Linked DNA regions of Homo sapiens. The protein of the gene in region 2 purifies or fractionates together with the protein of the main gene of each other region. This does not show direct contact. Each region holds a gene or a part of one and is shown on either strand. Other genes may lie near its edges.

Region 1 (3,749 bases), on a different chromosome or scaffold from region 2:
CCCTCCAGCTTGGGCAACAAGAGCAAAACTCTGTCTCAAGAAAAAAAAAAGATATTTAAAATCACCAACAAAATTAAGTACTTGTTCCTCATATTACATTGCAAAACGATTAACTTTCCAAGTTGAGCGTAACAATCATAATCACACGACTTGTATGTGAGATATAAAACACAGTAAGTATTGAGGATTTAAGTTTATCATATCGTAAACCGCCTGCGCCAGAAATAAAAGTATCTCAAAATACACACAAATAATCTTAAAATTCTAGGATAATTTAGGGTGACACAAATACTGGAACCTCTAGTTGGAATATGTGCAAAAGCCTATTCCACCTATCAGGAAGTAAATACGGAGTTGAAATTAAGTTAGAACCCTTCCACTTTTATTATTGTCTTTGGTCATTAAAGTGACAGTCAAACACAAATACCATGGTACATTTTATAAATCAACTGTTTTAGCGAATTGTATTACAAAATTAGATAGTCTGAAAGTCTGTGGAAATATCACAAACAGAATACAAATCCAAAACCCACATAAACTGTTCATAAGTGAGCATTTTTTCAACAATCAACTTTTTGTAAATTGATCCCTTCATCTAATTCACCTCTGCCAACTAGGCCTTTACGCCCAGAAGTAGTTGATTTGCAATATATCTTCTATAAGCTGAAATACCATCTTGCAAGGGTCGAGAATAAAATAAAAAGGCCAGAAAAGATCAACGTACCCTTTTTAATAATAAAAAGTAAAGTACCAGGTAAAAGGCCTTTCCTTCCAAGAGAGATAGGCCATAACTATCCCGGGATGGTATGTGTAGTACAGTGCTCTGCTTAACAGAATGTACCATTAAAGCGGTGAATGCTACACTAAGAAACATCATTAACAAATTTATTTTAAAAATAGGTATGAAGGTTCCAATCATCACTATCACAGTTCGTTTTCAGCTATTTAAGGTCTGGCTGAAGTGTTTAAGACACCCACAAACCCGCAAGGGAGGGAAAAACCACCACCCTGCTCCCGGGAGTTTAATGAAAATTAGCAGGTAAGAGAGGCCTCGGCAGCACGCTGGAAATCAAAGAGGGCGGCCGGAGGATTTGGACTGCGGAGGAAAGCCTCGTCCTCCGACCCCACCTCCCCGCACCTTCCCGGCAGGGCGAAGGAGGCGAAGGCGGCGAGGGGTTCATTACTGCCTTCATTAATTGACACCTGTAATGAGGAAACTTTCCGAGAGCCCAGAGCGCCCGGGCCAGGCCGAGCCGGAGCTCCGCGGCGGCCGCCTCTCGGGCGCCCAGGTAACCCGGCCGGGCTGGGCCCGAGGCGCCGCGGCGGCCGCGCCACCGCGCACCTTCCCGGGGCGCTAGGCCCGCACGCCGCCCGGCCCGGCCGTCGCCTCCCGCAGGCCGCGGCAGCCCGGGGAGGCCAGAGAGCTGCGCGAGGACCCCAAACCGTGCACCCCGACAGGCCGCTACCGCGGCTACTTACTTTCATTTAACACCTCCACCAGGTCTGCGCAGTTCTCGCACATCGTTCGGCCGCCGCCCCCCCCCTCCCCCGCTTCGGATCACACTGACTGATCCCGACCGGCGGGGGGGAGGGGAGAGAGGCGGAGGAGGGGGCCGGCCGGCCGGCGGGGCGGGGAGGCGACTAGGGCGGGCGGCGGCGGGGACGGGGCGGGGAGCAAGAGAATGGGGGAGGGGGCCGGCGGTCCCCGCAGCGGGAGGGGGAGAGGAGGGGAGCGAGGGGAGGTGCGCAGGCCGGAGGGGCGCCGAGGCGCCGGCGGCGGGGAAGGGGGGGAAGGACGGGGGGAGGGGAGAGGGGGGGAGGGGGCGGGTGGGGAGAGAAGCAGCAGAGTCACTTCACCGACCAGACGCCGCGGCCACCGCCGACGCCGCCGCCATTTTAACAGAGCGCTCGGGCTGCGCTCGGCTCTTTCCGCCCGGGCTTAGGAGCGGACGAGAGGCGCCTCGCGCTCTCATTCCTCCGCCTCCCTCCCTTTCTCGCCTCTCCTCCGCCCCCCACCTCTCCCTCCGCACACACGCCGCACGCTCCACACCCCGCCGTGGCCGGCTCGCCGCCCTCCCTTTCCTCTTCCGTCCGGCCTCCCCGCCCTCGGTCCACCCCCTCCGCGCGCTCGCCCACCCCGCCCAGCCCGGATCTCTGTCAGCGGCCGGAAGGGAAACGCGAAGCCAGCGCGGCCGCGGGGGGAGTCCGGGTGAGTAGGAGAAGATGGCGGAGGCAACGGACGGGTCGCGGTTGCGTGGCGTCGCCCACCACGACCCACTCCACGGGCTCTGAGGCCCGGGGAGCGCCAGGTCACTCGCTCCGTCCTGTCCCCCGCCCCTGGGCTTCGCCATTTTTCCCCAGGGCCTGGGTCGGGGAGTTGGTGCGGGTTTCTTTGGTGTCCCCGGCCTCTTCCGCGCTTAGGCTTTTGGGGTACGGGAAGCAAGGAGTCAACTTGGGTGCCGGGCCGGGTCTACGCCGTAGCCCTCTTTCGGGCGCAAGGGCCACTCCCCCCGGGGTCTGAGAGTGAATCAGCCCAGGGCCCGGCTTAACTGCATCGGTGATTATCGCTACCCTGCAGTTCCTTGAAGGTCCTCCGTCCTGGAGCAGTAAGATCCTTGACGTAACTAGAAATGGCAGGGTAAGGAGTGTTTGCCTGACATCGTCTCGTTTTTACGGAAGAGGGCCCCTCACGATGTGCCCATCAGCCCCACCTGAAATAGCAAGAAATCTTCTTCAGCAGAGAGCGAATAACAAGGATATTAAGATAAAGAACAGGTGAAGGGGGCAGTCAGCTGAAGCTTGTAAGGGAATTTTCCTCACGCCGGCACTTACCCCTTGCTTGCTAATTTTTGTGTTCAACGTGTTTACATAGACATGTGACTGCAAAGTCCGAAAGATCGTGTACAGAATCTCTGAACGGTAACCAGAGTGTCTGTCAAGGCTCTGTAGTCATTCTCTCGATAGCTTTTGTGGAGGTTATGGCACGCCCATCTCTCCATGCCAGAACCACCTGGTTCCAAATGCTTTGCCTTTCTGCTGCTTGAAGTTGATACTATAAACAGTCTGCCCAACCCGTTTTGTTTCCCACTAGCAGGTGATCCTTAGGATTGTAGTTCTATTCTACCATCATCTTCCCTTCTTCCTTGTCTTTCTCACAGAATTGGGTTTTTGCAGACTTACTTTGGATCCTGAGGCAGACATTCGTTGTCCACTCAACATACATTCCCACGTATCCCTTTTTTCCCTGCCAACACAACCCCAATTATTTTTATTTGAATTTTTTTTTTTTGAGACAAAGTCTCACTCTGTCGCCAAGGTTAGAGTGCAGTGGTGCGATCACAGTTCACTACAGCCTCCACTTTATGGGCTCAAGGGATCCTCCCACTTCCCTAGTAGCTGGGGCTACAGGCGCTCTCCACCACACGTAACTAATTGTTTTTTATTTTTAGTAGGGACAGGGTCTTGCTATGTTACCCAGGCTGGTCTCAAACTCCTGGCCTCAACTGATCCTCCGGCCCAAAATGTTAGGATTACAGGTATGAGCCAACGTGCTGGTCTCACGTTTTTTCAGGTAGCAGTTGAAACCAACCATCATGGTGATCTGGCTTTTCTAGGGCTGGCCATACATAATTGAGTTCCTCCTGATAAAAGGTAAGCAACAATCCTGAGAAACATAGTGGGAGCCCTGTGTCTACAAAAATTTAAAAGGTGGCTGGGCGCGTTGGCTCACTCCTGAAATCCCGCACTTA
Region 2 (3,749 bases):
AATACCATTTGACCCAGCCATCCCATTACTGGGTATATACCCAAAGGATTATAAACCATGCTGCTATAAAGACACATGCACACGTATGTTTATTATGGCACTATTCACAATAGCAAAGACTTGGAACCAACCCAAGTGTCCATCAATGATAGACTGGATTAAGAAAATGTGGCACATATACACCATGGAATACTATGCAGCCATAAAAAGGGATGAGTTCATGTCCTTTGTAGGGACATGGATGAAGCTGGAAACCATCATTCTCAGCAAACTATCGTAAGAACAAAAAACCAAACACCGCATGTTCTCACTCATAGGTGGGAACTGAACAATGAGAACACTTGGACACAGGAAGGGGAACATCACACACCAGGGCCTGTTGTGGGGTGGGGGGAGGGGGGAGGGAAAGCATTAGGAGATATACCTAATGTAAATGACGAGTTAATGGGTGCAGCACACCAACATGGCACATGTATACATATGTAACAAACCTGCATGTTGTGCACAGGTACCCTAGAACTTAAAGTATAATAATAAAAAATAAAAAATAAAAAGAGACTCCATCTCAAAAAAAAAAAGCAATGTGGCAATGTCTAGTAAAATTGAGAATGTACCCAGTAATTTTTCTAGTTAAATAACCTACAGAAATTCTAAGGCAGGTGCCAAAGGAGACACCTAAAAGCTTTTCACTACAGCAATGTTTGTAATAGCAAAAAATACTATAAATAATTTAAATGTGCATCTCTGTAAGAATGAATAAATATACTAAGTAAAATGGATGCATAAAATAGACTATTATAAAAATTAATGAGAATAAACTAAATTCTTATATTGGCATGAATAGTTCTAAAAAACAATGTAAGCAAAATGCAAAATAAAATGCAGGAATTTTATTAATGTAAAAATTTAAAATACTACTGTATATTGTTCAAGGATATCTATTAATATATTTGAATGTAAAAGTATAAAAAAAAGTAGTTGTCCATGGAGAAGTAAAAGGATGTAAGACAGGAAATGAACAAAGCAGACAGATAAACAAAACAAAGAGGGAAAAAGAGACCAGCAAGATTTTCCCTGACATTAAATACTAAAATAAAATACTTATGTCTGTATGTGGCTCAATATTGGCAGGGTAAAGTTTAAAGCTTTTTATTCTCAAGTTGATTGTAATCGTTGAGAGAACAAAGGAACACACTGGTGAGTTTAAAGCTTGGGCCTCTACCTGGCATGAGTAGCTGCTTTCCGCACCAAATCCAGAACATCTGTACTGGGGGTGTCTGACACTTGCGTGCTCTCTCTCATTCTGACCCCTTCTTTCCCCTTACATATCATTTTTTTTCCTTTCTTCCTTCCCTTGGGTCTCTTACCACAAAAGCTCCGCACCAGACTGGGGTTCTGACACTAACTTGGCATGTGATTCTGGGCTGCCACCTCACCATTCTGAACCTCAGTGTTGTCCCCTCTAAACCTGGGAGAACACCCATCCTGCCTGGAGGCAAGTATGGCTCGCTGTCAGTTCTCCTTTCTGCTGTTTCTCTATTCCAGCATCATCTCCAGCAGACTACAGGCATACAGAGCCTCCGCCTTAATCTCACCTCTGCTCTTTGTCTCTGCTTCAGCTCCTGCTGGGCTGATTTCTGTTTGGCCTTCTCAACTCTGCTGACAGATTCTTTAACTTTGGTTTTTTCTTTACGTGCAGGTGGATCCATGGCTTGACTTCTGGATATTTCTTAGGAGGCTCTGATCTGGGTGGTACAGAAAGAGGCAGATCTTCAAAACAAAACAAAACAAAAAATACCCTGCCAGTTACTCCTCTAATCCTTTAGCTCCGCCCCATCCTTTGCCAGGTGAGGCAGAGTGGTCTGGTGGCAAGGGCGCTGGATGTGGGGGAGTAGGAACCGAGTCCCAAGGCCACAACCTCGCTGGGTGTCCCTGGGCAAGTCTCCTCCCCACTTTGAGCCTTAGTTTTCTGTCTGCAAAATGGGTTAAGTGTTTTCCTGGCCTCCCTCCAGGAGCTGCTGTGTGCGGGTGAAATGCAAAGACCCCTGTGAAAGCGTTGCCCACTGTGCGGCGTGCGGCACCCAGCGCGGAACCGTCCTAATGGGACGCTGAGACCCAGAGGGCGCCCAGGGTTTTCCCACTGCGGCCGGCCTAACTCCGCCGCAGCAGCCGCTCCTGGGGCCAGGGGGCCGGGCCCCATAGCCAGCCGGGCCCGCCCCCCACCGCCCGGCCCCCCGACCCCGCCCCGGCCCGCCCGGCCCCAGGGGACGGCCCCCGCCTCCTGCCCTCTTCCCTCTCCTGGAGGAAAATGGCGGTCGCTGGAGCCGCCGACCAAGAGGCTTGGGAGTCTGTACCTTTCCCGACCGGGCCACTGGAAGTTGGAGCCTCCGCCGAGTCGCAGACAACGCCTCCGGGAGGGTAATCCTCGCCTTCCCCCGACCACTGGACCCAGCGCTGCCTGCCCACCGCCCCTCGTCCTGGGCGGGGCCGCGCGCCGGGGGGAGGGGCGCAGGGCCGAGCGCCAGGAGGCTTCCGCCCGCAGGAGCGGCCGCGCGTGCGCAGAGAGGATGGCTGGAAACCCGCGTAGAGGGCGGGGCGGGGCAAGCCGGTGCCGGGGCGGGGCAGGGGCGGAGCCACACCGGGGTGGGTGGTGGTTACGGCTAACCAAAGCTTTTTCCCGTTATATTTTCTGCAACAGCTACTAGGTTTTAGAGGGTGAGATCCGAATCCTGGAATTGGAATTGCTCAGAATTCGAATTCCGAGGCTCAATTTCTTAATTCGAAAAGTGGGGATTGATGATTGCCACCTTCTTCATTCATGAGTTTATTGGGAGGATCAAGTGAGATCCCGTTTGCCACAGTGCTTTGAAAAAGGAAATCTTGACAGAAGTACCAATAGCCAGTATAAATACAGAGAACATTCACGTTCAACTGATTACCGAGGAGATGTAAATTAAAATAGCTGGCTGTAATTTTCCAGGTATTACATTAGCAAGGATTGACAAAAATGATAATAGCTACCTTACATTTGGGCTTACTATATTCCAGGCACTGTTCTTACAGCTTCACATTTATTAACTAATTCCTCATAATAAGTGTGTATAATGTATACGTGTATATTATTATCCCCATTTACACATAAGGGAACAGAAGCATTGAAAAGTTAAGTGAGTTGTCCCGGGTCACACAGCTTCTAAGTGCTGGAGCAAATATTTCAGCCAGGATTCATAGGACAATGGCCTTATCCAAAGTAAAACCCTGTTTGGGTCCACTATTTGTTCCTCTATCAAACTGGCAAGAATTGAAACAACTGATAGATGCTAAGCAAGCAATGAACTCAGCCCAGATGGACACACGCTTCCAGTCAAACTGTAAATCGTTAACAGCCTTTCTGGAGGTCAGTTTAGTACTAGGTATCAAAAGCCTTAAAAGTGAGCACAATGCCCCAAAAAGACAAATACTGCATGTTTCCATTCATATGAAGTATCTAAAGCAATCAAAGTCTAAGAAACAGAAAGTAGAATGGTGACTGCCAGTGGCTAGGAGAGAGGGAAAAGAGGAATTGTTTAAAGGGTATAGAATTTTAGGTTTGTAAGGTGAAAAAGTTCTAGAGATCTACTGCACAATGTTTATTTTTTATTTATTTAATTTTTAAAAAATAGATGGGGTCTTGCTCTGTCACCCAGGCTGGAGTGCAGTGGTGTGATCATAACTCACTGTAACCTGGGCTCAAGCAATCCTCCCACCTC
Region 3 (3,749 bases), on a different chromosome or scaffold from region 2:
CTAACTCCTGGCTTCAAGCAATCCTGCCTTGGCCTTTCAAAGCCTTGGGATTACATGCATGAGCCACGCACCCAGCAAGACAGCTTAAATAGAAAACCTTCCTCTATTAAACCAGTATCTGTTTCTCTGTGACTTACCATCGTTAGTGGGCCTCCCAGATGCCTCCAGTATTCCCTTGGTAGGAATTTTTTAAATCCATAGGCCAAAGCGGTACAGAAAAGATGCAGATAACTACAGATTGGTTTTGGCATACTAATAACTCCCTGATTGATTCCACAAACATTTATTTAGCAACTCCTAAGCTGTGTGAAAAAACTAGTTCTGCCTCAGGTTTGGATGTCCACAGAAGGGCCTCTGTGAGCTATCCACAGAGTAGTAACCTGCTCCAAGGAGCAGATGGCACATATCTTGTCCCTGGCCTCCTAGTCCCGGGCTGCACGCCAGCTGATGGAGAGGACCCAGTCATCCAACATGGAGACCCGGCTGGATGCCATGAAGGAGCTGGCCAAGCTCTCTGCCGACGTGACTTTCGCTACTGAGTTCATCAACATGGATGGCATCATTGTGCTGACAAGGCTCGTGGAAAGTGGAACCAAGCTCTTGTCCCAGTGAGTATGACTAAGGTCTCGTTCCAAGGACTTCGACGATTTACTACATCCCACAGGGCATCCTAGTCTCATTTCCCTTGAGTCAAATAAGGAGTTTATTGAATACCACCTGTGTGCAGAGCAGTGTGCCAAGCACTAGAGTCCATACCAAGATATATAATTCCATATTGTGATTCTAAATCGTGTAGTCTATTTGGGCTCTCACAAATTAAATAACAGTACAAAACAGTACTGTGCCAAGTGAGCAGTGAAAATAGGGGCTAGAGAAGTCAGGAGGAGAGCAGTCACGTCGTGACAGACCTGTTAATTGCTGGAAATGTTTGGTTTGATGAGGGTTAGTGAGCAGATGGTCCAGTATCTCCCAGGTGTCTGTTTGTAATCATCCCCTGCTCCTCCCTCTTCAGTCACCTCCCAGCCCATACACACACACACACACACACACACACGCCTTCCTTTGTGTTTACCACAGGTGTCAACCTACCCATTCACCATCTCCCTGCCACACTTTTGCACAGGGAGGAGGAGACCAGAACTTTGTGATACCCACAAGCATCTTCATCATACCCCAGAGTTCACATGCATGCGGTGGGCAGCTGTGCCTTGTGAGCAGCAGTCAGTAAACAGGTGCTTGGAGCCTAACCTGCCAAAGAGGGAGTCAGAAATCTTCTCAGCCCATAGATCAACTATTGAAATTGTTAGCCAAATCGAGTAACTAATCATAGATATTTGTTTTACATATTGGATCTTCCAGCTGTATTGAAGTCCTGAAGCCTTCAGCTGCCATCAGCACTGACATAGTTCTACAGTCTCCCAAGGGTACAGGGTTAGACTGGCCTTAGTTTCACTCTCTTCAGCCTGAGGATAATAATAGCTACCTTGCAGTATTATTGTGAGAAGTATTGTTAATGAGAATGTGTCTGAACATGCTTTGTAAATAGGAATATCATCTGTTAATTCTAGAGCACTGTACAGATGTATAAAGGATTAAATGTATAAGGAGAAGAGAAAAAAGAGAAAACATTTTAATCCTTATTCTCTACCAGCACTAGAATAAGAGCTTTGCATACATCATCATCTTGTCGTCTCCACAACCCTGTGAGGTTAACGCTGTGAGACTAACTTGATTTTACAGAGGAAGAAATTGAATTTTGAAAAGATAAAATTTGCTTGGTTAGTAAGGTGGACAGGAACTGAACCCATCTCTTGCACTCTACTGCCTCTTGGCCCAAAGGTTAACATGGCACTTACACTTCCTTAGGTTCTCCCAACAGGTGTTGGAGTTTGACAAAGGTCCAATGTCTTCTTTGGTCTTGGGAAATAGATAAGTGATTCTGTGTCCCTGGGATGAAGCATATGGAGAAGGAAGATCTAATTACCCAGCAACATTTTTTTTTTTTTTTTTTTTTGCAGCGATAGATACCTGGGCTGAATCTGCTCTACACTGGCTAGGTGTGCACACAGGCACTTACAGTTACAGTTGCATCGACTGATTTCCCATGGGGTGTTCACATTAAAATTCATCTTTTTTGTGGCTGCCCTCACACCTGTGTTTCCCGATCTGAATCTTTGTCTATTTTGTGTGTGTGTTGCACGTGTCTCAGCTACAGTGAGATGCTGGCATTCACCCTGACTGCCTTCCTAGAGCTCATGGACCATGGCATTGTCTCCTGGGACATGGTTTCAATCACCTTTATTAAGCAGGTGAGGCCTCCAACATTCTGTCTTTCTCTCCTCCCTCAGCTGCCAGTTCACAAGGCTTAAGGGGAGATACAGGCAATATCGCCATTCTGGTGAGATCAGCTTTATATTCCCTGGGGCCAGATTTTTCATCCTCAAGCTCTAGTCTTCTGTGGCTTCTGAAAGATTTGCATTTTGTTATATTCTCAGGGCCTGCACTGAGATGGAACTGGACCGTCAGAACTAAATATGATCAAAGTAGAATTAGATTGTCAGTGAGACTGGGGATAAAGCCAGCCAGTCAACCAGTACTAGCCCTGAGTCTTTTGACCGACTTCCTGAGCTCTCTCTTCTTTTTGTATATATATAAAAAAAATTTGCATTTCATTTGTAAATTTGCCTTCTATTTACAAATCTGCAAGGTAGCCTGTTTGGATTGTCAGACTAAGTTCAGTGGGTAGGAGAGGGTACTTCTGGTTTTACCCTCCTTTCTTTTACACAAAGGAGCAGTGTCAATTCAGAATACTGAACTAAAACCAATGAATAATATTGTATCTGCTGCCCTAGAACTTCAGCTATCATTGGCTTAGGACATTGGGACTCCCCGACACTGGACACAAGTGAAATGACCATGTGTCAAGGATATTATAATGGGGACTGAGAAGAAGGATTAGAGTAAAAGGCTTCAAGGTCCTTTCTACCTCTCAAAGTCTAAGTGTGTTTAGGGGGAGTGTGTGTCAGGGGAGGTACATGGAGATAAAATGAGATCCCAGTATCAGTAAAATCCTCTGCTTTTTTATACCCCACTTTCTCAAACTGGAACCCTTATTTTGATAAAAAGAATTAAGCTTTTAGATTTTGAGGAAACACAATTAAGTGGATACTATAATCTGAGATTAAGGTATCCATGCCAAGGGAATCCCTGGCACATTGGCCAGGGTAGCCGTAAACCAGATACCACTATCCACCTAGCAACAGCTGCCCAAATGTGAAGCAGAGAGAGCTTCAAGGGCTAGCATCAGATGCTAAGCTTCTATCTTTCTTGGGCCCTGAGCTTCTCAATTGATGTGCCATCTCTGGGTCTAGATTGCAGGGTATGTGAGCCAGCCCATGGTGGACGTGTCAATCCTTCAGAGGTCCCTGGCCATCCTGGAGAGCATGGTCTTGAACAGCCAGAGTCTGTACCAGAAGATAGCCGAGGAAATCACCGTGGGACAGCTCATCTCACACCTCCAGGTGTGAGTAAAAAACCCTACACCTCCCTCCCTTCACTTGTCTGTCCTCTTTTCTCCTCTTATTTTAAGTCTTCCAATCCTACTCTCCTTTGCTTATATTCCAAGCTGTTGGTTGGCTTCTTCATTCATCACCTCTTCCACACTCCTGCCAGAATTTCTCCCATCATTCAGACTTGATCATGTCATGCTCCTGCCCAAAATCCTCTGTAACTCTCTCTGCCCCTTAGGT

Evidence for each region.
Region 1: the proteins of ERMAP (region 2) and USP34 purify together in Homo sapiens (affinity purification with mass spectrometry; 2 studies listed by BioGRID and IntAct, with this or other methods). This does not show direct contact.
Region 3: the proteins of ERMAP (region 2) and ELMO2 purify together in Homo sapiens (affinity purification with mass spectrometry; 2 studies listed by BioGRID and IntAct, with this or other methods). This does not show direct contact.

What each region holds. Positions count from the first base shown.
Region 1 is NC_000002.12:61,469,171-61,472,919, forward strand, and holds the start of USP34 (ubiquitin carboxyl-terminal hydrolase 34), read right to left. Parts: upstream 1,918-3,749; 5' UTR 1,523-1,917; coding exon 1,480-1,522; intron 1-1,479. UniProt on the Homo sapiens protein: Ubiquitin hydrolase that can remove conjugated ubiquitin from AXIN1 and AXIN2, thereby acting as a regulator of Wnt signaling pathway.
Region 2 is NC_000001.11:42,814,836-42,818,584, forward strand, and holds the start of ERMAP (erythroid membrane-associated protein precursor), read left to right. Parts: upstream 1-2,286; 5' UTR 2,287-2,418; exon of another isoform or gene 2,419-2,562; intron 2,563-2,698; exon of another isoform or gene 2,699-2,980; intron 2,981-3,749. Other genes in the region: SVBP (small vasohibin-binding protein), read right to left, coding at 1,596-1,709. UniProt on the Homo sapiens protein: Possible role as a cell-adhesion or receptor molecule of erythroid cells.
Region 3 is NC_000020.11:46,385,898-46,389,646, reverse strand, and holds part of ELMO2 (engulfment and cell motility protein 2), read left to right. Parts: intron 1-426; coding exon 427-608; intron 609-1,856; exon of another isoform or gene 1,857-1,947; intron 1,948-2,209; coding exon 2,210-2,309; intron 2,310-3,371; coding exon 3,372-3,523; intron 3,524-3,749. UniProt on the Homo sapiens protein: Involved in cytoskeletal rearrangements required for phagocytosis of apoptotic cells and cell motility. Acts in association with DOCK1 and CRK. Was initially proposed to be required in complex with DOCK1 to activate Rac Rho small GTPases.